Linked DNA regions of Homo sapiens. The protein of the gene in region 2 interacts with the protein of the main gene of each other region in a pairwise test. Each region holds a gene or a part of one and is shown on either strand. Other genes may lie near its edges.

What was found.
Region 1: the proteins of GNE (region 2) and EGFL7 interact in binary tests that used the Homo sapiens proteins (3 or more experiments, as listed by UniProt).
Region 3: the proteins of GNE (region 2) and KRT86 interact in binary tests that used the Homo sapiens proteins (3 or more experiments, as listed by UniProt).

Annotation. Positions count from the first base shown.
Region 1 is NC_000009.12:136,665,652-136,673,300, forward strand, and holds the end of EGFL7 (epidermal growth factor-like protein 7 precursor), read left to right. Parts: intron 1-116; exon of another isoform or gene 117-166; intron 167-2,589; 5' UTR 2,590-2,631; coding exon 2,632-2,711; intron 2,712-2,905; coding exon 2,906-3,022; intron 3,023-3,954; coding exon 3,955-4,070; intron 4,071-4,262; coding exon 4,263-4,358; intron 4,359-4,517; coding exon 4,518-4,679; intron 4,680-4,950; exon of another isoform or gene 4,951-5,035; intron 5,036-5,298; coding exon 5,299-5,363; intron 5,364-6,274; coding exon 6,275-6,437; intron 6,438-6,612; coding exon 6,613-6,635; 3' UTR 6,636-7,027; downstream 7,028-7,649. UniProt on the Homo sapiens protein: Regulates vascular tubulogenesis in vivo. Inhibits platelet-derived growth factor (PDGF)-BB-induced smooth muscle cell migration and promotes endothelial cell adhesion to the extracellular matrix and angiogenesis.
Region 2 is NC_000009.12:36,220,197-36,228,691, reverse strand, and holds part of GNE (bifunctional UDP-N-acetylglucosamine 2-epimerase/N-acetylmannosamine kinase), read left to right. Parts: intron 1-1,233; coding exon 1,234-1,444; intron 1,445-5,189; coding exon 5,190-5,319; intron 5,320-5,693; coding exon 5,694-5,915; intron 5,916-8,495. UniProt on the Homo sapiens protein: Bifunctional enzyme that possesses both UDP-N-acetylglucosamine 2-epimerase and N-acetylmannosamine kinase activities, and serves as the initiator of the biosynthetic pathway leading to the production of N-acetylneuraminic acid (NeuAc), a critical precursor in the synthesis of sialic acids.
Region 3 is NC_000012.12:52,297,135-52,307,165, forward strand, and holds part of KRT86 (keratin, type II cuticular Hb6), read left to right. Parts: intron 1-4,680; coding exon of another isoform or gene 4,681-4,782; coding exon 4,783-5,151; intron 5,152-5,965; coding exon 5,966-6,174; intron 6,175-6,976; coding exon 6,977-7,037; intron 7,038-7,797; coding exon 7,798-7,893; intron 7,894-8,105; coding exon 8,106-8,270; intron 8,271-8,528; coding exon 8,529-8,654; intron 8,655-8,925; coding exon 8,926-9,146; intron 9,147-10,031.

The DNA.
Region 1 (7,649 bases), about 100 Mb from region 2:
GCAGCTCGTCCGCCGCGGGGCCTCAGTTTCCCCGTCTGCGCAATGGGGGCGGGGCGGGGCCGCCAGGTGGGGCGGGGCCGGGGGCGGGGCGGGGCGGGGCTCGGGGCCCCCACGGCGCGGGCTCGGGCGGCAGTGGCGGCGGCGCGTGCGCGCCCCGGATCCGGCGGTGAGTGCGGAGCGAGCGGGGCGCGCCGGGGTCGGGGTCCGGTCGCCGCCCGGGCTGGGTCGAGGGCGGGACCCGCGGAGCCCCCGGGGGCGGGGAACCTGGCCGCGCGCGGAGCTGGGGGCGGCTCCGGGACGAGGCAGCGCGACCGCTGGGGCCGGGGGCGGAGCGGGCCGGGGCGCCCGCGGCTGGGTCGGGCCGGGCCGGGAGAATGGGCCCAGCGGCCCCGGGAACCGGCTCCCCCTGCCGGCGGCGGGCGGGCGGGCGGCGCGGCGGGGAGGGCCGGGGTCGCCGCGGCCCCTCGTCCGACCCGGCGCGACTCAGCGCCTCGGGGCCCAGCCTGTGCCGCCTGCTCCGCCCCCCGCGAACCCCGGAGCCAGCAGCGCGGCTGGGAGGGGGCGGCGGGCAGGTCCGTCTCGCTCCGCCTCTGCGCCCTCCCTCGTGGGCCCCGCGGTCCCCAGCCCTGCTCCCGCCGCGAGGGGTCCGCCAGTGCCTGCGGCGCAGCCAGGCCCCTCCCTCTGCGGACCCGGCCTCTCGCGGGTGGGGGCTGCGGGGCTGCTGCCGGGCAGGTGGGGAGGGAGCCCGTGGGCGCTGGGGGCACGGGGACCGGACTGCTGGTCCACCTGGCGCCGCCGCCCCCTCCCCGCCCGGCACCCCTGGGTCGAGGCCGTGGCCCCCCCCGGGGAAATGGGGCTTGCAGCACCGGCTCGGAGAGCACCACGGGCTTCCTCTGGCCTCGGGAAAACATGACTTTCAAAAATTGAGTCTCCACTTAGCACCGCTTCCTGTCCAGGCGACTCTCAGGAATTGTGGGGGGGAGCTGTGCCAATATGTGTGGGGGGCAATGAGGTCTGGGAGATTCGCCTACCCCCAGGCCCGCCCTGGCATCCCCCTGCCCACATCAAGCCGCCGGGCCGCTGCCCTACCTCTTCCTTCCCGGGTCCCACTCCCCAATGTCCCCCGACTTCGAGTCTTGCCTTGAGGTCGCACCAGACCCAGCCCCTAACAGTGTCCTTCATCCAGGGCCCATCCCCAGAGTTAATCTCCAGCCAGCTCTGCCCCCTCGACAAACTCCTGCCCAAAAACTGCTGTGATGCCCCCCCTGCCCCCAAGCTAAGTCCCCACCCCTCAGCTGCCCAGGGCAGCCTCTGCCTAGTTGGCAGCCTCTGCCCTGCCCTCCTCTCTCCAGCGCACAGAGGACTGGAGGCCCAGGAAGGACCCCCAGCCACCCTCCCCGCTGGGACCGGGTGATGCCTTGGCAGTGCCCGTGGGAAGCAGGTGTGGGATCGTGCTCCACACCCAGTGGGGCTGGCCAGCAGCGACTGAGGACAGTGTGACTATTTATAGGACTGGCTGTCAGAGCTGAGGAGGGGCCTCAGAGACCCTATTCTAGTGTGTGAGGAAACTGAATCCCAGAGAAGGGACAGCCTTACCCCAGCCTCTGCCCCGACCCGAAGCCTGGCCTTTCCCTGCGGAGGGCCCTGCAGTGCCTCGGAAGGAACCCACCCAGCCTTTGGGAAGCACCCGTGAGAGGCCCTGGGTGGGACCCTGCAGCATGGCAGGGGCTCGCCAGGTCTCCAGACCCCTGGCTGCGCATAGGACAGAATCCCCATCCCCGGCATTGCCACAGACCATTAATTCTGGGCTCTCATGCTCTCAGGAAGCCTCACCCGGGCCCCTGGCTCCTGCTGCACAGCCAGGAGGGGGTTGGATTCCGGTTCCGGTGACACTGTCGGGGGCTGCTCCTCACCCCCAGGTGTGCACCTGGCACAGCCACTGTCCCAGGATCCCTGGAGGCTGATTGCACACATATCCCAGCCTGGGAAGGACCCCCTCTAAAATGAAGGCCGCCCCTCTGGTGGTCTTAGAATGTGTGCACCCTCCGCACGGTTCCTGCTGGCTTGCAGCTGCTGGCCCACCTGCTGGGGCCGGTTCCACACTCAGATGAGAAATCAAATTCCAGAAGGGCTGAGGCCGGCAGGTCCCTGGTGGGGCTGGATCCCAGCTCTGCCCACGAACACCCCGTTTGCATAGACTGGGGTGCAAACTCACCCCTGCCCTGCTGTGAGGAGGGCCCTGGAACCAGGCAGGACAGGAGAAACGGCCACCCGTAGCTGGAGCCATCCTTCCCGGAGCCTCGGGCAGATGCCCAGCAGGATCCACTCGATTCCTGCACCAAGAGCTCTGGACAGCGTCACCCCCCCTGTGCCCCCAGGCTGTGGCCCCAGCTGTTTGTGCCTGGCGAGGGTCTGGCTAGCTGGAAGAGGGGGCCAGCGGAGGAGAGAGTGGGCGCCACCGTGGGGCTGTCCCACCGGTGGAGGCTCCAGCGGAGATGAGCTGGGCAGGCCTCGCGGAGCAAGTGCAAACTGCACCCGCGTCCTGGGGGCATCTGCGGGGAGACTTAGGGGTCATGCTTTGTGCCCCAGGCCACCCAGAGGAGAAGGCCACCCCGCCTGGAGGCACAGGCCATGAGGGGCTCTCAGGAGGTGCTGCTGATGTGGCTTCTGGTGTTGGCAGTGGGCGGCACAGAGCACGCCTACCGGCCCGGGTGAGCCAAGCCCTAGCCTGGGAGTGCTGGGGTGGGGGGACCGGGAGCCCTCAGCACCTCCTAGAGGCGGCCCTCAGCACCTGTCGGGGACTCCCTGGGGGCTCCTGCTGAGGGTCCTGCCCCGGCCACATGTTCCCATCATTCTTGGGTCCTGCTCTGGGACTCCTGGGCTGACCCCCTCTCCACCCCCGCAGCCGTAGGGTGTGTGCTGTCCGGGCTCACGGGGACCCTGTCTCCGAGTCGTTCGTGCAGCGTGTGTACCAGCCCTTCCTCACCACCTGCGACGGGCACCGGGCCTGCAGCACCTACCGGTGAGTGCCCCACCACACCGAGCTCACCCAGCCCCAGCCTCCCAAGTCGGCCACACATCAGCATGTCAGGGGCGAGGCGGGGGTGAATCCTGGGACCCAAGATGGGAAACTGAGGCCAGAGCCATGAGAGGGCTGCCTGAGATGGGCGACCCAGGGCGGCCGGAGCCAAGGGGTTCCACGATCACCTCCAGTGTCCTAATCCTTGCTCTTGCCCCGACACGTCTCAAAGGACCGCACCTCTAAGAGCATCCCCATGTTTAGAGGGGTCACCCATCCTGTCTGCACCCCTCCACTTCCGGGGGACTAACCCCTCCCTACCCTGGCATCCCTGGCTGCAAGTTCCCATATACACAGAATGGTGCCTGACTCCCCTGGTCCCACTCCACTGGGCACCCCCCTCCACATGACGGCCCCCAGTGGGCACAGATGAGACCCTGAAATGTCCTGTATGCCCACACAAGGGGCACACACCCCTAAGTCTCAGAGTCCTCCTTCCTGGGTGTGGGAGCTCCACCCCCTGCTGGGGGAGGGGCCTGGGAATTCAGACTTCTGGAGGTTTAAGAAGGGCTCCGATGCCCAGGGCCCACACTCTGCCGTGACTCGCCGTAGGCCGGGCACACCCTCTCCTCTGGGCCTGGATGCCCCCACAGTAGGAGACCAGATAGGTGGGGGCACACACAGGCCTGGCCACTGCCTCTGCTCCATGCGGAGTGTGGCTGGGCCTTCCTGCTGTGGCTTGAGTCCCGGCCAGCACCGGAAGGCCCAGGCAGGGAAACGGCTGTGCAGTGACCCCTCAGTGCCATCCCTTGAGGAGAAGACCCTTGGGGGCATGCTGGGGTGACCCTGTGCACTCTGAGAGGGGACTCTAGATGCCCAGCAGGTGACTAAGGGGGAGTAGGATGCCCCTCTGAGCTGTCCCACCCACCCCACAGAACCATCTATAGGACCGCCTACCGCCGCAGCCCTGGGCTGGCCCCTGCCAGGCCTCGCTACGCGTGCTGCCCCGGCTGGAAGAGGACCAGCGGGCTTCCTGGGGCCTGTGGAGCAGGTGAGGGCTATGTCCCTCGGCGCCCGGTGTTAGGAGGGCGACTGTTCCCCAATCTTCCAGCAACGCTCCTGCTGCTTTTCTTGAACCCCGAGCAAAGCACCACCTTGCCGCAGAGCACCCACTCCCTAGCAGCTGCCCCCACAGGGTGCTGGGGACCCAACTGAGCTGGTGACCAGCCTCCCCCGCCCACAGCAATATGCCAGCCGCCATGCCGGAACGGAGGGAGCTGTGTCCAGCCTGGCCGCTGCCGCTGCCCTGCAGGATGGCGGGGTGACACTTGCCAGTCAGGTGAGGCTGGCTCTACCCTGGGGGGCCCTGGAAGGGTCCTGGGCACCTCCTTGCATGTCCTGGGGTTACTGCTGGCCCATGAGTGGGTGGTTGTGAAGGGAGCTGTGTGGGCAGGACCCCTCCCGCAGGCATGGCCGCCTGACACCCCGTTTCCTGCAGATGTGGATGAATGCAGTGCTAGGAGGGGCGGCTGTCCCCAGCGCTGCGTCAACACCGCCGGCAGTTACTGGTGCCAGTGTTGGGAGGGGCACAGCCTGTCTGCAGACGGTACACTCTGTGTGCCCAAGGGAGGGCCCCCCAGGGTGGCCCCCAACCCGACAGGTAAACAGCCCTGGCTGTGCCTGGCCTGGGGAGGCGGGCAGGCAGTGGACATTGCCGTGTGGCTGTTAGGCATGGTGGGGGGCACTGGAATCTGGGCGGAAGGCGGTGGGGACTCCCTCTCCAGGGAGGGAGGATGGGGAGGGAGGATAGGTGGGTTCCCGAGAACTGGGGGCAGGTTGCCCGGAGCCTCATATCAGCCAAGAAGGCAGAAGTGCCCCGTCCCGGGGTCCTGTCTGCATCCAGCGCAGCATTCTGGAAGACGCCACGCCTCCGCTGGCGACGGGACATTATTACTTTTGGTACGCGCTGTGACACTTCAAACTCGTACCGTGAGTAATAATGCGCCGTCCACGGCACCGCATCGAAAACGCCGCTGAGACCTCAGCCTTGACCTCCCTCAGCGTGGCCGGGACCCTGAGCCTCTGCGCAGAGCCACCCGCCCCGACGTACTTAGGCGGCATAGCCCTGAGACCTCTGGCCAGCGCCAGGCAGGCAGCGGGGGCGGCAGAGGCCTGGGCCTGAGTCTTCTGGCTCTGCCTCTCCCTGGGGACAGGAGGGAGCCTGGGGGTGTGGGTGGGGAGCCGGCCGGCCGTGACCCAGCGCCTGGCTCTGCCCGCAGGAGTGGACAGTGCAATGAAGGAAGAAGTGCAGAGGCTGCAGTCCAGGGTGGACCTGCTGGAGGAGGTGAGGCATTGGTGGGGGGGGGGGGGGGCAGGCAGTCCAGGGTGGACCTGCTGGAGGAGGTGAGGTGTGGAGGGGCAGGCAGTCCAGGGTGAACCTGCTGGAGGAGGTGAGGCATCGGGGGGGTAGGCAGGCAGTCCAGGGTGGACCTGCTGGAGGAGGTGAGGCGTCGGGGGGGCAGGCAGTCCAGGGTGGACCTGCTGGAGGAGGTGAGGCGTCGGGGGGGCAGGCAGTCCAGGGTGGACCTGCTGGAGGAGATGAGGCGTCGGGGGGGGAGGCAGGCAGTCCAGGGTGGACCTGCTGGAGGAGGTGAGACGTCGGCAGGGGGCAGGTCTTCACAACAGCAGAGGCCCAGGCCCGGGTACAGGCTCCGTAGTCTCCTGGGACATGGTCCCGACCCACGGATGGCTGGGGGTGGTCTGAAAAGGTCCTGGCCCTGGGGAGGTGGCTTCCTCGCTGCTGACTGCCGAGGGGGCCCTGGCCTGGATCCATGCTGGGCAGAAGCAGCTGGACACTGACCAGGACCCCCCAGGGCCGGAGGAACCAAGCTTGACAGCCCCCCAGACAATACACAGAGCCTGGACCCAGACGAGACCTCCCCACCCCCCCATCTTTGTCCCCACCAGGACAAAGAGCTCTTGCCAGTCTTCCCACTGGCCAGTGGTCCAGCTGTCCCCCTAGTTCTCCTGCCAGGGACCCCAAGGCTGGGACCACCCCGCCAGCCTGATGCCCCAGGCACCCACTCTGCGGCAAGCTTTTCTGCCACGGCAGCCCCCTCTAGTGGACACTTGGAGCCCTGCCGCGGAGGCGGGGGCTGGAGGCTTGTGGAGCCCTTCCCAGGGGTCCTCCCTAGACCCCGGTGGAGCAGAGAGGGCGGGGGCCGGCCCAGGGTCACTGCCCTTCTGCACCCACAGAAGCTGCAGCTGGTGCTGGCCCCACTGCACAGCCTGGCCTCGCAGGCACTGGAGCATGGGCTCCCGGACCCCGGCAGCCTCCTGGTGCACTCCTTCCAGCAGCTCGGCCGCATCGACTCCCTGAGCGAGCAGATTTCCTTCCTGGAGGAGCAGCTGGGGTCCTGTGAGTGCCCCCACCCTCCAGAGCCCTCCTCCCGGGTCTGGGCCCAGTGGGCCTAGAGGGGCTACCCAGGCTTGGGGGTCGGGGGCGACCAAAGGCCAAGGGGCCAGTCAGATCTAGCTGGGCGGGGAGGCTGTGGGGAGCAGTGATCTCTGACCTTCGCCTCATCCAACCCTAGGCTCCTGCAAGAAAGACTCGTGACTGCCCAGCGCCCCAGGCTGGACTGAGCCCCTCACGCCGCCCTGCAGCCCCCATGCCCCTGCCCAACATGCTGGGGGTCCAGAAACCACCTCGGGGTGACTGAGCGGAAGGCCAGGCAGGGCCTTCCTCCTCTTCCTCCTCCCCTTCCTCGGGAGGCTCCCCAGACCCTGGCATGGGATGGGCTGGGATCTTCTCTGTGAATCCACCCCTGGCTACCCCCACCCTGGCTACCCCAACGGCATCCCAAGGCCAGGTGGGCCCTCAGCTGAGGGAAGGTACGAGCTCCCTGCTGGAGCCTGGGACCCATGGCACAGGCCAGGCAGCCCGGAGGCTGGGTGGGGCCTCAGTGGGGGCTGCTGCCTGACCCCCAGCACAATAAAAATGAAACGTGAGCTGCTGTGTCAGTGGATGGACTGGGGGCCTGGGAGGAGGGCGCTCACCTCCTGGCCACCCCTCCCAGACCCACTGCTGGGTGCCAGCTGGCAAAGGGGGCCTGGTGGAGCGGGCAGTCGTGGGGTGGGGAGGGGGTCCAAGGCAGAGGGGGTGGGCAGGTGGTTTCTGTGAGGCCACAGAGAGCTTTGTCCTGGGGACATGTTGGCCCCAACCAGAGGCCAAAGAGCAAATCTCTGGCCTCCTTCCCAGTAGCCTGAGGATCCCGGCACACTTGCCCGTTAGGCGACACCCCCACCCATCGATGGAAGTAGTATAGGGTGATGTGGGTCCACTCCTGGATAGGGAACACGGGTGGGTGGCGGTGCCTGCACCCTGGGCCTCTAGGCAGGGCAGCTGGGAAGACACAGCGTCGCCTCCACCGCCCTGGTCACCTGCCCGCCCTGTGAGTGACCACAGCTCCCCAGCCACTTCCAAGAGTGTGTTTATAAAAAAACAGCAACGGAGTACAGTGCTGACCCCACAGAGTCTTCCAGGCCAGCAGGAGCAGCAGGCCCCGATTCCCGGCTCCCTGTGGCCCAGGGTGCGTGAGTCTGGGACTCCTGGCCCTCCAGGCCCCTCCTC
Region 2 (8,495 bases):
CTCCCAAGTAGCTGGGATTACAGGTGCGCACCACCACGCCTGGCTAATTTTTGTATTTTTAGTAGAGATGGGGTTTCACCATGTTGGGCAAGCTGGTCTCAAAACTCCTGACCTCAGGTGATCCGCCTGCCTCAGCCTCCCAAAGCGCTGGGATTACAGGTGTGAGTCACTGCGCCCAGCCTTATTTTATTTGTTTCTCTTAATTAATACAACACTTTTGCTACACTTATTTAACCTTCTTTGGCTTTCTATAAATATTAGAAAATAATGTAACTGATTTTTTTTAAAAAGTCTAGTTCAGCTTTTTAATTAATTTTGACCACCCTCCTTTCTGTTTCAAATCGATGAGATTTCCCTGTATTTGAATATTTCTTTCTGAAAATAATTTTGTTTTCTCAGAAATATAAAGATAAAAACTAAAAAAAGCAAAAAAATACAGGCACTTAGTTACAATGTTGCTGAAGAGATCTAGATATTATTTTATATAAAATTTTTTTAGTTCTGTATAATTATGATTTATAGTTTTTAACTTTTAATTGACAGATAAAATTGTATGTATTTATTGTGTACAACATGATGTTCTGAAGTATGTATATCTTGTGGAGATGTTATTTTATTTCTTTTTTGTTATTGTTGGTTGTTTTTTTTTTTTTTTTTTTGAGACGGAGTCTTGCTCTGTCATCCAGGCTGGAGTGCAGTGGTGCGATCTCGACTCACTGCAACCTCCGCTTCCCGGGTTCAAGCAGTTCTCCTGCCTCAACCTCCTGAGTAGCTGGGATTACAGGCACCCACAACGCCTGGCTAATTTTTGTGTTTTTAGTAGAGATGGGGTTTCACCGTGTTGGCCAGGCTGATCTTGAACTCCTGACTTCAGGTGATCCGCCAGCCTCGACCTCCCAAAGTGCTAGGATTACAGGTATGAGCCACTGCACCCAGCCTATTTATTTCTTTAAACATGATTTTTAAAATTACTTTTTGTAGAGATAGAGTTGCTATGTCTGTGTTGCCCAGGCTGGTCTCAAACTCTTGGGCTCAAGCAATCTTCCTGCCTCAGCCCCCCAAAGTGCTGGGATTACAGGTGTGAGCCACTGTGCACGGCAGGAAGATGTCACTTTAGGAAGAAGCATGAATTATTTTTACCTGAAGTCTCAGTTTCCATTACATTATACCCTCACTACCACTTAACATGTATGGCAGAAGCATATAATTTAATTGACTTTTTGTATATTGCAGTTCAAAGATATATGGGGATGGAAATGCTGTTCCAAGGATTTTGAAGTTTCTCAAATCTATCGATCTTCAAGAGCCACTGCAAAAGAAATTCTGCTTTCCTCCTGTGAAGGAGAATATCTCTCAAGATATTGACCATATTCTTGAAACTCTAAGTGCCTTGGCCGTTGATCTTGGCGGGACGAACCTCCGAGTTGCAATAGTCAGCATGAAGGTAAAATAACTCCTAAACTCCTAACTTTATATCCCATATGAGCGATTGATTTTTTTTTTAAGTATATATAGTTGGAAGGTAAGACTAGAAACATACACAAGAGCTTGTAATCATTTGCTGATAGTATTGACTTGTGGATCCTTTACAATGTTTGTCTCACTATTTTACTGATCATTAACATTTCAAAGAAGTAAATTCTTTGGGAATCCAAGACGGTAGACTTGACAGTGGGAAGACCCCTTTAGGCATCAGATCGGGCTTTTGCCACCCAAAAGACCTGAAATTCTATACTTGGTAACAGCTTGGAGTGTGGAGTATGCTGATTACTATCACTGCCCAGGTGAGGGGTATCAGCAAATGGTGAAGGGAGCTGCCTCTTCTCTAGAATGTGATCAGTTGTGTGGATTTTCCATTTTGCATTTTTACAGTTCTGCTCTTTATTGAGTACAGCATACCTTCAATCTGTTAACCAAACCATCACCCAGTGTTGACAGGTGAGAGAACATTCATAAAAATAACAAACTGTTCATGTTAAAGTGATCTCTAATGACTTAGAATAAACCTACTAGAAAAATCTTGGTTTGAAATAGTGTGAGTGTATAAAGCTTCCAGAGACGATGAGAAATAGCAAAGATTTTAAATGTAAAGTTGTAGGAAATTTATTAATACCATTAGGTCAAATAAGGAAAGCAAAACAAAACATAATTTTCTCAAGAAAAGCCAAGAGGCCTCCCTTATAAATACTCTTTTAAAAACTAATAGAAGGCTGGATGCAGTGGCTTACGCCTGTAATCCCAGCACTTTGGGAAGTCCAGGTGGGCAGATCACTTAAGGTCAGGAGTTTCAGACCAGCTTGGACAACATGGTGAAACCCTGTTTCTACTAAAAATACAAAAAAAAAAAAAAAATTAGCTGGGCATGGTGGCAGGCACCTGTAATCCCAGCTACTTGGGAGGCTGAGGCAGGAGAATCGCTTGAACCCAGGAGGTGGAGATTACAGTGAGCCAAGATCGCACCACTGCACTCCAGCCTGGGCAACAGAGTGAGACTCCATCTCAAAAAACAAAACAAAAACTAATAGAAGAATAGTTTCTTAACAGAAAGATGATTTATTCCATATGAAAGGCCAACATCTTTTTCAATGGTGAAATTCTAGAGGCATTCCCATTGAAATCAAGAAGAAAAGAAAGATGTTTTGTGCAGCATTATCTCACATAATTTTGGAAGTTATGAGGGAATAAAGGAAGGAATAGCAAAAATGGAGATTATTGATAGGGTAAAACAAAAAACATTATTAATAGACAAAAAAATGCTTGGCTCCCACCCTGGACTGGTTAAATTAGAGTCTCTGGGGATGGGGGCCAGGCATCGCTCTTCGTTAAAAGCTGTCCAGGTGATTCTGATGCACAGCGAAGATTGAGAAGCACTACTCTAGATTTTTTATTCTCTTAATTTAAAAAAATTTTTTTTTAGAGACAAGGTCTTCCTATGTTTCCCAGACTGGACTCAAGGTCCTGGGCTTAAATGGTCCTCTGCCTCAGCCTCCCAAGTATAATAGCTAGGACCACAGGCACATGCCACTGTGCCCAGCTCTAGATGTATTTTTGTTTTTTGAGACTGAGTCTTGCTCTGTCGCCCAGGCTGGAGTGCAGTGGCGTGATCTCGGCTCACTGCAACCTCTGCCTCCCGGGCTCAAGTGATTTTTGTGCTTCAGCCTCCTGAGTAGATGGGACTACAGGCTTATGCCAGCATGCCTGGCTAATTTTTGTATTTTTTGTAGAGACAGTGGTTCACCATGTTGCCCAGGCTGGTCTTGAACTCCTGGGCTCAAGGGATCTGCCAGCCTCGACCTCCCAAAGTGCTGGGATTACAGGTGTGAGCGACCGTGCCTGACCTAGATTTATTTTTAATGACAATCCTAGTGACAGCTCTAACCCTATATTTGAGATATAAAAATCCACTAATAACAAAATAATATAAATGGAAAGAGAGATCTTATTCAGAACAACAACAAAAACTCCTAAGAATAACTGAAACCAGGAACGATGTAATCTATATAAAGAAAATTCTAAAACTTTACTGTAAGACATAAAGTCTTGAAAAAAATGCCCTGGATGGAAGTGCTGATTATTTTTAAGATGTCAGTGTTTTCCCAATTTGATTTATAAGATCAACATAATCTAGTAAATATTTCAATGGTATTTGTTTTACATTTAGTAAAATTATTGTAAATCACAGTGGAATTTCTCAAAGTTTAACATTAAAAGTACAAAAGTCAGTTGTGCAAAGAAAAAAGATAAAGACAAGTAATCAGGAGGGACTATCCCTGTTTGGTATTAAAACATATCAAAAAGCACAGTAATGTGTTTTATTTTTTTGAGACAGGGTTTCACTCTGTCGCCCAGACTGGAGTGCAGTGGTATGATCTCGGCTTACTGCAACCTCTGCTTCCTGGGTTCAAGCGATTCTCCAGCCTCAGCCTCTCAAGTAGCTGAGACTACAGGCGTGTGCCACCACGCCCAGCTAATTTTTGTATTTTTTATAGAGATGGGATTTCCTCTTATTGCGCAGGCTGGTCTTGAACTCCTGAGGTCAAAGTGATCTACCTGCCTCGGCCTCTCAAAGTGCTGGGATTACAGGCGTGAGCCACCACGGCCGGCCATATAATAATTTAAACAATGTGGTATTTCTGCCAGCCAGGATGGAAATTTACCCTAAGGAAATAGAGTATCCAGACCATCACTGAATTCAGTTACAGGAGATGATTAAAGCTCAGCTACTTAGTTGCCTCAGTGTTTTTTTGTTTTTGTTTTTGAGAAAGGGTCTCACTCTGTTGCCCAGGCTGGAGTGCAGTGGCGTGATCTCAGCTCACCGCAGCCTGAACTTCCCAGGCTCAAGAAATCCTCCCAGCTTAGCCTCCCAAGTAGTTGGGACTACAGGCATGTGCCAACATGCCTGGCTAATTTTTTGTAGAGAGGAGGTCTCACTGTACCTCCCAGGCTGGTTTTAAACTCCTGGGCCCAAGCGATTCTCCCGCCTTGGCCTCCCAAAGTGCCGGGATTACAGGCGTGAGCCACTATGCCCGGTCACCTCAGTAAGCAAGAAAGTTTTGTCAACCTGAAAGAGTAAACTATGGTCTTTTAATGAACTAGGCTCAAATTAGCGAACATTGAACTTAAGCTTAAGAAAGGGGCCCGGCCGGGGGCAGTGGCTCACGCCTGTAATCCCAGCACTTTGGGAGGCCGAGGCAGGCGGATTGCTTGAGGTCAGGAGTTTGAGACCAGCCTGGGCAGCATGGTGAAACCCCATCTCTACTAAAAATACAAAAATTAGCCGGGCGTGGTGGCAGGCACCTGTAATCCCAGCTACCTGGGAAGCTGAGGAAGGAGAATCGCCTGAACCTGGGAGGTGGAGGTTGCAGTGAGCTGAGATCGCGCCATAGCGCTCCAGCCTGGGCAACAGAGCGAGAGGCCATCTCAAAAAAAAAAAAAAGAGAGGGGCCCATCTTGCTGCCTGTGGAGTTGTCATTGCTTCAACAGCCCCATATTAGGACAGATTACAGGAACTACTTGAGCTTACCCCAGGGCTGGCCCAGACCAGGCAGTGGGTCCTTCCCCAAGCAGTCATCTAAGACTGCGGGGCCATCCTATAGCAGTGTCTAATTTGTCATGAAAAAGATCACAACACTCACAATATGCTGCTTAGCTAAGACCAGTAAGACGGAACTTGTTGTTTTCTCTTTTAGGGTGAAATAGTTAAGAAGTATACTCAGTTCAATCCTAAAACCTATGAAGAGAGGATTAATTTAATCCTACAGATGTGTGTGGAAGCTGCAGCAGAAGCTGTAAAACTGAACTGCAGAATTTTGGGAGTAGGTAAGATTGTAAATTATAAATCCAAGAAATGCTCATTTTAATGTACAAAATTTACTAACTTGTGATGCATGCCTGAGCATCAAGTCAGTGTCTGCCCTGTGCATAGATGGCTCTAGGTGCTGTCTGTGGGCCCCAAGCATGGGGACTTCCTGGGACACCAACAAGCATTAGGAGAGAAGCACTGACAGTTCTAGAAATCTTTAAGGTGCTATGGCTTTAATTCACAACTGTCTAATATTTCCTTGCAGTCCTTGGTAACGTTTGTCTTAGGAGATCTGGGGTGAATGAATCTGTGTTCTTAAGACAAGAAAGTCAGCATACTTTCCTGAGATTGCTCATCAGCATTATTTCCTTGTGTTTGTGGTGGAGCGCAGGCATTTCCACAGGTGGCCGTGTAAATCCTCGGGAAGGAATTGTGCTGCATTCAACCAAACTGATCCAAGAGTGGAACTCTGTGGACCTTAGGACCCCCCTTTCTGACACTTTGCATCTCCCTGTGTGGGTAGACAATGATGGCAACTGTGCTGCCCTGGCGGAAAGGAAATTTGGCCAAGGAAAGGGACTGGAAAACTTTGTTACACTTATCACAGGCACAGGTAAGAGGGGTAGGGGGAGGTTGGTTCAGGAGCTAGAATGTATATTGGAGCATGTCTTCAACATGGTCAGGTGGTTACAACTCTGCCTTAGCCTTCACTTCCTGCATGACTAGAGCCTGAAGGTGAGCCACATGTGGCCTTTTCTGAGCATGTGCCCAGCCTTAGACATGCCTGTGGCCTTCTAAATTCCAGGAACTTGTCAGAGCTATTCAAAGCTCTTATTTCCCAGAGCTTCTCATTTCCCAGCTTTTCCTCCCAGTCTTTTTGGTTAGTGTGTTGGATGCCCCAGCTGTTATCCTTTGCCCTAGACAGCACAGACTAATACATTTTACCTTGAAATGTTTTTTTTTTTTTTTTTGAGACGGAGTCTCGCTCTGTCGCCCAGGCTGGAGTGCAGTGGCGGGATCTCGGCTCACTGCAAGCTCCGCCTCCTGGGTTCACGCCATTCTCCTGCCTCAGCCTCCCAAGTAGCTGGGACTACAGGCGCCCGCCACTACGCCCGGCTAATTTTTTGTATTTTTTAGTAGAGACGGGGTTTCACCGTTTTAGCCGGGATGGTCTCGATCTCCTGACCTCGTGATCCGCCCGCCTCGGCCTCCCAAAGTGCTGGGATTACAGGCGTGAGCCACCGCGCCCGGCCGAAATGTTTTTGATAAACATCCTTCATGTAACCCCCTCAGCACTAGGATAGTTCCTAGTTAGTTAAGATGAAAGCAGGCCCTTTGAGGTGGTCCTCCAGGGAGGTGACAGGCAGGTCAAAACAAACAACCACAATTTTTTGAAAATAAGTTCGTCCTGCCCCGTCAGGTACTGGTATCCAGTACTGTTTCTGTACACCAGTACTGGGAGTGTGGACTGTTGTTCAAGGTCACCACCAAGCTGGAGAGTGGGTGATGGGACCAGGGTAGGTTACAACACCAGAAAGTTCTCTTATCAAGATTCAGCTGGTTTTGTTTTGTTTTTAGACAGGGTCTCACCATGTTGCCCAGGCTGGTCTTAAACTGCTGGGCTCGAGGGATCCTCCTGCCTTGGTCTCCCAAAGTGCTGGGATTACAGGCATGACCCACTGCACCTGGCCCTGGTTTTTGTTTTTCTTTTTTAAATTAAGCATTCCTCTGTTTGTTGCAAACTTTGGTTAGTTTCCAGAGTTCCAAAAAGGTTGATTCTGACATTTTTACCAGTTTTTTCCTCACTTTAGTGGCAGAATGGACCTTTGGAGTTCCCTGCTCTGTCATTTTTTTATGACATCCCAATTTGTTACTTTTGTTTTTTTACTCTATTTTATTTTTGTTGTATATATTTTAAGTGTATAACTTGATTTTTAAATGAGGAAACAGACTTAGCTAATAAGCGGTTAAGCCAGCATCTGATACAGATATGTCTAACTTCAAAACTTGTATGTGCTTAAACTCTACATTACACCACTATCCCTTTAAGCTCATGTACTTATTTATTTATTTATTTAAAGAGTGAGTCTCACTCTGTCACCCAGGCTGGAGTGCAGTCGCACAATCTCAGCTCACTGCCTCCCAGATTCAAGTGATTCCCCTGCCTCAGCCTCCCAAATGGCTGAGATTACAGGAATGTGCCACCACACCCGGCTAATTTCTGTATTTTTAGTAGAGACAAGGTTTCACCACGTTGGTCAGGCTGGTCTTGAACTTCTGGCTTCAGGTGATCTGCCCGCCTCAGCCTCCCAAAGTGCTGGGATTACAGGGGTGAGCCACCACACCCAGCCTAAGCTCATGTACTTTAGCTCATGCTCATCCTCTTTTAGTTCCAGACACAGTTTTAGCAAACTTGGATACCATTTCCTGGCTCAGAGCAGTGACTAAGCTGTAAATCAGAGGGCTAGGGGTTGAGGAATAAGTGCCCAAGAAGTGACAGATGGCAAGACAACCCTTAAAAGCAGAGCCTTCTCAGGCACAATACCCTTTACTCCTTTGTAACTGCTAAACGCCATAACAAAAGACAGTCACTGATATTTATAATTATTGAATCACAGATTTTTAGACATGGCAGCATCAAAAAAGGCAAAATCATTATTTCATATTTTCTGCTTCAGGAAGCAGGTAGTGTGTGATACATTTTAAAAGACTTATCTTGGGTATTCCTCAGAGCAGAGCCTGAGACAAGGATTTAGGTACAGGTATGGTTTTTTGGAGGTGACCACAAGAAGCAGGAGGGTGAGTGGGAAGAATGAAACAGAGCAGGAAGAAAGCCATTAAGGATATATTAACATTATTGAAGTTGACTTGAGGGCAAAGGGGGCTGAACTCCACTAGCACCTCCTAAGAAGCCTGCAGAACAGCATCCAGAATTGTCCTGTGGATCTGCCGGCTCCTGCCTTGCCTCGGTTGCAGGTTGCCCCTGGGTGCTGTGCCTGCGTGGCTGAGTAGGCTCTTGCTTCAGTGTTAGAGAAAGCCTTGGTGCAGAAAGATGGACAGTGTGTGCTGGGCCAGGGGGTCTGCTACCCACAAGGTGGGCATGCATTTTTGCTGCACTGTCCCCACAGCTGTGTTTGAAATCACAGTGACCCAAGCAGATGGGTCACAGGGCATCAGAGGATCTGCTAAAAAC
Region 3 (10,031 bases), on a different chromosome or scaffold from region 2:
CCCGCCTTTTGCCTAAAGCTTGTCCTCACCCTTTCCAGGGAGCCTTTCTTGCCTTTCCCATCAGACTAGCTGCAATTGCACATTGTCCCAGAAAGGACACTGTCAGCAGTCATTGCATGCCTCAGTATCTGACAGTATGTATGAAAAGTAGCCCTCTTTAGACTTCTGGCCTTTCTCATGAATTTGGATATGCTCTACCAGACTGGGAGCTCCAGAACCCATGTTTCCTTCCTCCTCTTAATGCCTCCTTCCCTCCAAAATTAAGACAGGATTGAGCATAGAGCTAGGAAATATCAGTCACAAAATCCCCGAGTCCCCCATCTGGAAAATGTTGTCTAGTCTAAGCGATCAACTATCTTGAGGAGTCTGCCTTATAATACCCTCCAGGGAGCAGAATGAACCGAAGGGAGCACTGAACAAGAACTTTCTAATGTTAAAACCACCTAATTTGCCCATTCTTTACAAGTGCCCCTTGAAATAAAGGTCCACTTGGGCTAAAAGAAGAGATTCTGATCTCCAGATCTGAAGGTCTTTTGGTTCACCTTGTCTCCACAAAAATGGTGGCCACTGCAGAATAAGAAGTGTCTTTCTTTTACTTAAAGCCTCCCTAAATGGAAGAGATAATGCAAGCTCCTTTAGAAAGTAATGACTACTTGTCTTCTGGCAAGTTCTTCCTCAACTCCAACTTCCATTTGTCCATCTGCAATGAAAGCTTGCCTTCTCTTGCTCTCATTGGAGCACCATTATACTTGGATGAATTATCAAGTCCATATCCCCCATCCTCAACCTCATGAAATCCTCTGGCTACTGACCAATCAGGAGGTTTTAGGATCAGGCAAAAATAAAGATGAGTGAGTGTGCCATCATTTAATTTATGACTGAGGATTTCTGATGGTCTGTTAAGTCCAAATAATAAATACACACTTATGAATTATTCACAGATTACAGAATTTTTAGATTATCCAAGCCTCTCTTCTCATCCAGTAGTATGGTTACCCAAGGATTGGTGGTGTGTTCCTTTGCCAAAGAGAAGAGATTCTCTTTGGACCTTCTCTGAGGCAATCAGGCTGGAGCAGAGATTGAAGGAGGGGCATGTGTTTTGGGGTTCTTTTCGAGGACAAATGGAGTAACCATGGCCAAACTTCTCAGATCCTCTGCCCCTTGGACTGGCTCCCACTGTAGAATATAGTAGATAACATTTATTGAGCATTTTCTATGTGCCAGCTGCTGTTAAACATTGTCCATGCATTATTTCATTTAATCCTTCTACAAGTTCTTTAAGATAAGGCGGTTAATGAAAACTGGACACAGATGGCTTAGGCATGTGGATGAGTATATCCCATCAATGCTGTTGATACGTCTGCAGCAGCAGCATCAGCAGCAACAACAACAACAACTAATATGATTACACACTTAGAGTGTGCCAGGCTTAGTTCTCAGTGATTTACATGGATTAACTCTTTTAATCTTTACAACTTTATGAGGTGGGTACTATTATTATCTTCATTTTAGAAATCATGAAATGAGGTACATAGAGGCTAAGTAATTGCCTGAGTTTACACAGCTAGAGAGTGGCAGAGCTAGAATTCGAAACGAGGCAGTTTGGAATCTGAGTCTGTGTGCTTAACTAATATGCCATGTATTCAAACTTTTTATTTATTTATTTATTTATTTTAATGTTTTCTTTTTATGGGTACATAATAGTTATACATGTTTATGGGCTACATAAGATATTTTGAGATAAGCATAAACTGTGTACTGATCAAATCAGAGTACTTGGAATATCCATCACCTCAAACATTTATTATTTCTTTGTGTTGGGATCATTCCAAGCCTACTCCTTTAGTTATTTTGAAATACACAATAAATGATTAACTATAGTCATTCTATTGTGCTACTGAACACTAGATCTCATTTCTGTTATCTAACTGTATTTTTGTACTCATTAACACGTCTTTATCTTCCCCTCCCCATTACCCTTCCCAGCCTCTGGTAACCATCATTCTACTCTCTATCTGATGAGATCAATTTTTTTAGCTCTCGCATATGTGTAAGAACATCTGAAATTTGTCTTTCTGTACCTCAATTATTTTCCCTAACATAATGTCCTCCAGTTCCATCCATGTTGTTGCAAATGACAGGATTTCATTCCTTTTTATGGCTGAATAATATTCCATTGTGTATCTGTAACATACTTTCTTTATTCATCCATTGATGGACACTTAGTTTGATTCCAAATCTTGGCTATTGTGAATAGCGCTGCAATAAACGTGGGAGTGCAGACATCTCTTTGATATAAGAATTTTCTTTCTTTTGGATGTATACCTAGTAGTGGGATTGCTGGATCACCTGGTGGTTCTATTTTTAGCTTTTGGAGGACACTCCATACTGTTTTCCATAGTGGCTGTAGTAACTTACATCCCACTAGCAGTGTACAAGTGTTCCCCTTTCTCCACATCCTTGCCAGCATCCATAATTTTTTTGTCTTTTTGATAAAAGTCATTTTAATTGGGTTGAGATGATAATCTTATTGTGGTATTGATTTGTATTTCTTTGATGATATGTTGAGCATTTTCAATATACCTGTTGGTCATGTATATGTCTTCTTTTGAGAAATGTCTATTCAGATCTTTTGCCCATTTTAAAATCAGATTATTTGGTTTACTTGCTATTGAGTTGTTTGAGTTCCTTATATATTGCAGCTACGAATTCCTTGTCAGTTGAATAGTTTGCAAATATTTCTTCCATTCTGTAGGTCATTTCTTCAACTTGTTGATTGTTTCCTTTGGTGTGCAGAAGTTCTTTTAGCTCGATGTGATCCCATTTGCCCATTTTTTGCTTTGGTTGCCTTTGGTTTTGAGGTCTCAATCAAGAAATCTTTGTCCAGGTCAATGCCCTAAGCATTTCCTCAATGTTTTCTTCTAGTAGTTTCATAGTCTGAGGTCTTATATTTAAGTCTTTAATCCATTTTAATTTGGTTTTTGTATACAGTGAGAAATAGATATTTCAACTTTTCTGCTGCAACTATAATAAGAAATAATTTTACATGGTGACTGAGTATGCACATACATATACATAGGCCATACAACTGAAACAAAAAGGGCATGTAACAAGTTATTCCCATGACATAAGGTGCAATCTGCTATTTTCTGGTCTATTCTACTCTATTTGATTTTCTCATAATCAATTTCATTAAAATAAAATTCTGGTTGGTTCAATTAGTGGGTCAGAACATGAATTCTGAATAAACACTGCCCCTGAGCCCACCGCTTCCTAATGATTGTAATGAAGCCCATCTGCTCTGTGCTCTGGAGTCCACTGAGCATGTACACATTTCTGTAACTCTAAGGCAGTAGTAGGAGGGAAAGCCTTAACCTATTTCCCAGGAGAGTCAAGTGCCTTCCCCTAGATCACACAGGGGTACTCAGGGCAGAGCCTTGGTTCCTACCCAGCCTTTGTGAGTTTAAGACCCACACTATTCACACTGGATGGATGGCACATACAAATATAGATCTGTTCTCTGGCACCTGCCAAGGGTACTGACAAACTTCTGTGCAGGAGTTTCAAGGAGTATAGTGCAGAAAGCAGCAGGGACTCAGGGGATGATGGCAGGGGCTGGATGCTCTCCTCATGTGGCTCTATTTGATCTCATATTCTGAGCCAGATACTGTATAGATGCATAACAGTGGTGCTCATCCCAGACCTTCTAGGCCCTGGAGGTTACACAGAGGCCTGAGAGGACATCCAGACATTCAATCCTTGTCTAGGGCCTTGTGGGAGGTAATTGTGCTTTCCTGGGGCCAGTGGGCTAGTGTGTGCTCCTGAGGCCGCATGGGACACTCTGAGGGAGGGAATGCCTCCTCTCAGCCGAGGCTGGCCAATATGACCTAATAAGGTGGCCTGAGGACTAGTCTACATGCTAGTTGAATGTGCAGGTGAGGACCTGTGAGTGTGTGTGTGTGTGTGAGATGGTGGGTAGAAAGGCCAGCATGTGAAAGCATTGTGTGTGTGAGTGTGTATGTGAAAGAGAGAGGGGGGGTTGTGAGTAGGAAGGCCAGCATGTGAGTGCATTGTGTGTGAGTTTGTGTGTGTATGTGTGTGTGCACCAGAGAGTGGGAGAGAGAGAGAGAAAAAAACATGTTGATAGGTATAGATAAGGGATTTGGGAGTAGGTGTGGAGGAACTGGGTCCCTGAGAAGGTGACTAAGTTAGAGATTCTGTAAACGTGGGTCTTTTGGGGTGCAGAAACAGGTCATCTAGTTCGGAGAAACCACCAAGCGCCCCCCAAGTTCCACATCAAGGGATTCCCCCTCCCAACATTCCTGGCTAGTCCTATGAGCACCGCGGACAGCGGCATTGACCATGTCAAACCCCGCAGGACAGAAAGAGCAGCAGCCCCGCCCCTTCCCTTCCATTCCAACCTGAGTCACTGCCCACTCCTTCGTCCAACGTCAGTTTCCTCAACTGTGTATTGGGAGGTTGAGGTGGGTGTGCGGGACGTGAGTTGGTCCTTTGAAGAAGAAAACTGCAGTTTAGGGCAAGAGATCATAACATCTGGCTGCTTCTGGGCACCAATTAAGTACATTAAGTGGGGAGCGACAGCAGCTAAACAACCCAAGCCCATAAAGCCTTCTAATTGCTCCGACCCACGTGGTCACAGTCTCCCCACTTATATAAAAGGCCTACAGAGGTGCAAGTAGTGAACGCCTGACGCCCCGACCACTGTGCTCTCCATTCGGACGTCTCCATCCTCAGAACCTCCTCTCTTCCCCAAAAAGCACCATGACTTGTGGATCTTACTGTGGTGGCCGCGCCTTCAGCTGCATCTCGGCCTGCGGGCCCCGGCCCGGCCGCTGCTGCATCACCGCCGCCCCCTACCGTGGCATCTCCTGCTACCGCGGCCTCACCGGGGGCTTCGGCAGCCACAGCGTGTGCGGAGGCTTTCGGGCCGGCTCCTGCGGACGCAGCTTCGGCTACCGCTCCGGGGGCGTGTGCGGGCCCAGTCCCCCATGCATCACCACCGTGTCGGTCAACGAGAGCCTCCTCACGCCCCTCAACCTGGAGATCGACCCCAACGCGCAGTGCGTGAAGCAGGAGGAGAAGGAGCAGATCAAGTCCCTCAACAGCAGGTTCGCGGCCTTCATCGACAAGGTGGGTGTCCTGGATCACACCCTTCCTGAACCCCCACCACCTACACAGCCAGGGCCGGGCACTAAGGATGGAGTCAGAGGCACAAAGACCTCTGCCTGCCTGAGATCCCAGTCTGATGGGCGAGGCACACAGACACACAGACAGACAGACACATGCACAGACACACACACACAGGCACTCAAGATGCAGACTCAGCTGACAGTTCAGATAGAGGGAGCTTGTGAAGGAAAAGTGTGGCCAGGCTGCTCTGGGGCACAAGCTAGACATCAGGGAGTTGGGGGAGGGGGGCATGTGACCACTGCTGCTGAACTCAGAGGGGTTTGGGCAGCCCCAGGGTGAGAGAGTAGGGTGCACTGACTTCCAGATGACACAGGGGAAGGGCTGGGACAGCTGAGCTCCCTTCCAGATGGCCTGTGACACCCTCTTCCTGGCACCATCCCCAGAAACCTCATCTGTGATCTGAACCTGAGTACTCTGCCTGTGTGGGTTGCTGATCACCTAGTTTCATAGTGAGGGACTGAGCCTCTACTTCTGTTCATCTGCTTGGGTGGGGGGTGGGGGGGGGGTCACTCAACTCCCCAGGGAGCAGGCACTGACACCACCCAGCCCTTGCTCCACTCCTGAGTGGGAAATCTAGACACAGATCATGACCAGGAAATCCAGAAATTGTCTGTCTCCCACTGCCCACCTCTACTCAATCTCAGATAAGCTCCAGATTTGGGGGTTCCCATTAAAGCACCTCCCCTGCGAGCCCCCAGAGCTGGCTTTGGGGCACCAGACACCATCTGCCCCACCTTCCCACACCGAATGGCAGGTGCGCTTCCTGGAGCAGCAGAACAAACTGCTGGAGACAAAGCTGCAGTTCTACCAGAACCGCGAGTGTTGCCAGAGCAACCTGGAGCCCCTGTTTGAGGGCTACATCGAGACTCTGCGGCGGGAGGCCGAGTGCGTGGAGGCCGACAGCGGGAGGCTGGCCTCAGAGCTTAACCACGTGCAGGAGGTGCTGGAGGGCTACAAGAAGAAGTGAGTGCGGGCAAGAGGGATGCTGGGCACAGGAATGGGGTTTAGGTTAAATACACTGGATTAGACAATAAGAACTCCCAGGTAGGGTGAGTGGCCATGACCACTAGATTGACCGAGGGTGGCGGGGTCTTTTCCTTTGTGGAATCTTTGCCCAGACACCTGTGTAAGAGGAGGGCTGTGACTCCCATGACCTGTCTCTGTCCCACTTCAGCCTTCTCTCCCTGAACCACATCACCCAGCAGCTCTCCCCTGCGCTGGGTGGGGAGGAAGCCTCTGCAGGGTCCAGGCCTTCTCTCCTGACCCTCAGCCCCTATACTTGTAGCACCTGTCAGATGTGAGCCCAGGGTCTCTCATGAGTGACAGGTCTTGGGCTCTGGGTGTCGCACTGCCTTAGGTTCTAAGTCCTGAGGGTCTGCGGGTCCAGGAGGCCCCATACCTGAGCTGGGATTGATACCAGTGAGGGGAGGCTAGGGCTACAGGCCCTGAGAGTCCACGCTGTCCACTCCCAGGATGGGGCTGGGGGCTGAGTCCTATTTGCCTCCTGGGGGACCTCAGAGCCCCTTTGGGAACAGGACTGGGAGGTCCCAGATGAGCACTCTCCATCCCCAGTTCAAAGTGGATAGAGAATCCCAGACACATCCCACATCCAACTAGAAAGCACTAAGCTAGGCTGCCAGGCCGGGGCTGTGTGGAGGTGTTTCTAGTACTGTCCCCATGGCTGTGATGAAGTGTGATGTGATGGTGGCTCTGCAGAGACCTGCCCTGCCCTGACCTCCCCTCTCTTCCCTCTGCTCTGTCTCAGGTATGAGGAGGAGGTTTCTCTGAGAGCAACAGCTGAGAACGAGTTTGTGGCTCTGAAGAAGGCAAGTGACACAGGATTGAGAAGCACAGATCTGTGGGATCTCAGAATGACAGATTCTTCCTGGGGACACACAGGGGGTCTCAACCTCAGCGTGGGGCACAATGACCTTTCCACAGCAGGCTAGGACTGCCCAGATGCAGGCCTTTGTATTGAGCATCCAGGGCCTTGACAAAGGGCAATGACTTGGGAATATCTACCAGCACCTACCTTGGGCAAGGGGATGGCTGCACTGTCCTCTGTGTGTCCTGCTCTGTTCCAGAGGTTGTGGTCTATTGCTGAGGCCCCTGGAGCCATAGCAGATACAATGTCTCTGCTGAGAGACAGTGCAGTCTGTCTAGCATTTTGGGGAGTCTGACCTTGAGGCAGAGACACAATCCCAGGTTCTAAGGGGGGATGGAGAAGAACCAGGAGTAGCCCTTGGGCTTTTGGAGCACTGCTGGGGGACAGGAAAGGGTCAGGGTGTGAGAGCTGGGGGGTCAGTCTGGGCAGGCTTCCTGGAGCAGGAGAGGGGAGAAAGGAGAGATAAGAGGGTAAGGAGCAGTGAAAGGCTGGTGAGCCGTGCCCAAGACAAACAGGGTTTGTCCTCAGAATGGCAGAGGATGCCAGGTCACCCCGGGAAGGGCCAGAAGGGAAGGAGAGGGCATGGGAATGAGACACTGGGGACTCCTTTCCCCAGGCTTCATGGAATGGGTGGGAAGAGAGAGGAATCTAGAGGCTGGATCACCAGGGTCCTTGAGCTCCAACACTCCCCACCTTTCCAGGATGTGGACTGCGCCTACCTCCGCAAATCAGACCTGGAGGCCAATGTGGAGGCCCTGATCCAGGAGATCGACTTCCTGAGGCGGCTGTATGAGGAGGTGCGGGCTCAGGGGCCAGGCAGAGACCTGGCAGCCAGCAGAGAGGAGAGATGGGGGTGGGAGTGTTGGACAGGATGTGGGTAGAGGTTGCAGTCCCTGAGGCTGTGTGAGGGGGCAGGGTTGGGGACCAGAGAAAGCCTGAGGAGGTGGAGTCAGGACATGGTGGGTGGGGCTGTGTTCTCAACTAAAGTCACTGCCCTCACCTCCTGCAGGAGATCCGCGTTCTCCAGTCCCACATCTCAGACACCTCCGTGGTTGTCAAGCTGGACAACAGCCGGGACCTGAACATGGACTGCATCATTGCCGAGATCAAGGCACAGTACGATGACATTGTCACCCGTAGCCGGGCTGAGGCCGAGTCCTGGTACCGCAGCAAGGTGAGTGGCACAGGACACCTGCCTGCTAGACATGGCAGTGGGAGGGATTTGAGATTATCTATTAAATAGGCTTCCTTTTCTGGGGATGCACTAGGGATGAGAAGAGATGGCTGCCACTCTGATGTTGGGGTGGTAGGGCAGGACTGCCATGTGTGGTTGCACAGGCTGAGCACTGCACAACCTGCAAAATCATCTGTCATGCCCTGAATGGGTGGGAGGTCCCACCCTGAACCTCATGAGCATCTCTACTTCCCCCAGTGTGAGGAGATGAAGGCCACGGTGATCAGGCACGGGGAGACCCTGCGCCGCACCAAGGAGGAGATCAACGAGCTGAACCGCATGATCCAGAGGCTGACGGCTGAGGTGGAGAATGCCAAGTGCCAGGTATGGGGCATCTGTGCCCAAGGTCAGAGAGACCGAGGGTCTAACCATGGTCACACAGCCTATGTGTGCCCTATCTGGATCTCAGCATTCATTCTCCAGCCCCTCTGTCCATGTAGAGTCCCTGGTTGTGGTCTCTGTGAGTCCCAGGTGATGAAGGCAAGAGGCTCTGTTCTGGGGTGCTCCCAGCTTGGTGGGGAGCATGGTCTCATCGAGGTAAGCATCAGAGAGACCCAGGGACTCTAATCTACCTTGTTCTCTCTGTTCTCTTCAGAATTCCAAGCTGGAGGCTGCGGTGGCTCAGTCTGAGCAGCAGGGTGAGGCGGCCCTCAGCGATGCCCGCTGCAAGTTGGCCGAGCTGGAGGGTGCCCTGCAGAAGGCCAAGCAGGACATGGCCTGCCTGATCAGGGAGTACCAGGAGGTGATGAACTCCAAGCTGGGCCTGGACATCGAGATCGCCACCTACAGGCGCCTGCTGGAGGGCGAGGAGCAGAGGTGGGTCCCATAGACCTTTCCCTTTCCCAGCCCTGCCAGGGTTCTCAGTGTGCTCTGTCCTCACACTCCTGGCAGCATTTAAGTTTTGTTTCTTAACCTCCCCACCCTGCAACCAGACAGGTAATTTGTGTAAGTCCTTTAAGTATGATCTAGCCCCGTTTGAGTCTCTCATGTTCACCCAGGCACTGATCTGAGATTGCAGTCTTGTTCATCTCAGTTGAGATCCAGTAATCTGGCAGCAGGTATTCCTGTTACTGAGAAGCCTAATTAAGGCTTGGGGTCAGCTTGCCTGGGTAGTGCTTCTTCCCTTCCAGCTGTAGCTGCATGTGCTTCTCAGGATTCCTTCTCTTTTTCCTAGTCTGGCCCTGGCCCCATCTAGACCTGGGAGTTCAGATGTATCCCATAAGGACAGCTTCAGATAGATGACACTATCAACTCATGCTTTTCTATTATAGTGCCAATGAGCATCCCAAAGTGGTATTCCATTGTGGCAGGTGGGAATGAGTTAGGCAGAGAGCAAGGACTTATCCCTTGGGGCAGTTATGCCTTGCTTTCAGGATTTTTGCTTGTTTGCTTGCTTCAGAGGTGGGGGGAGTGGAGAAGACCCATTGGTCACTCAGCCTTCCTATGGCTGGAGGCCAGCGATACAGCTGGAGGGCAGCTATACAGCTCCTGCTCCCAGAAGGACAACACTCCCAGAATGTGAGCTCATTCTTTGCCCTTGGTTTCTTTCCCCTAGTTGGTCAGTTGGTCTCACTCGAAGCTCCTTTTTTTTTGTGGACAGTCAGGCCCTTGGCCCTGGGGAGAGGAGGGTGAAGGTTGGGGATGCAGAGGGAGCATCTTGTTTATTTGGGAAATGGGGAACACAGGTTTGGGACCTAGAAA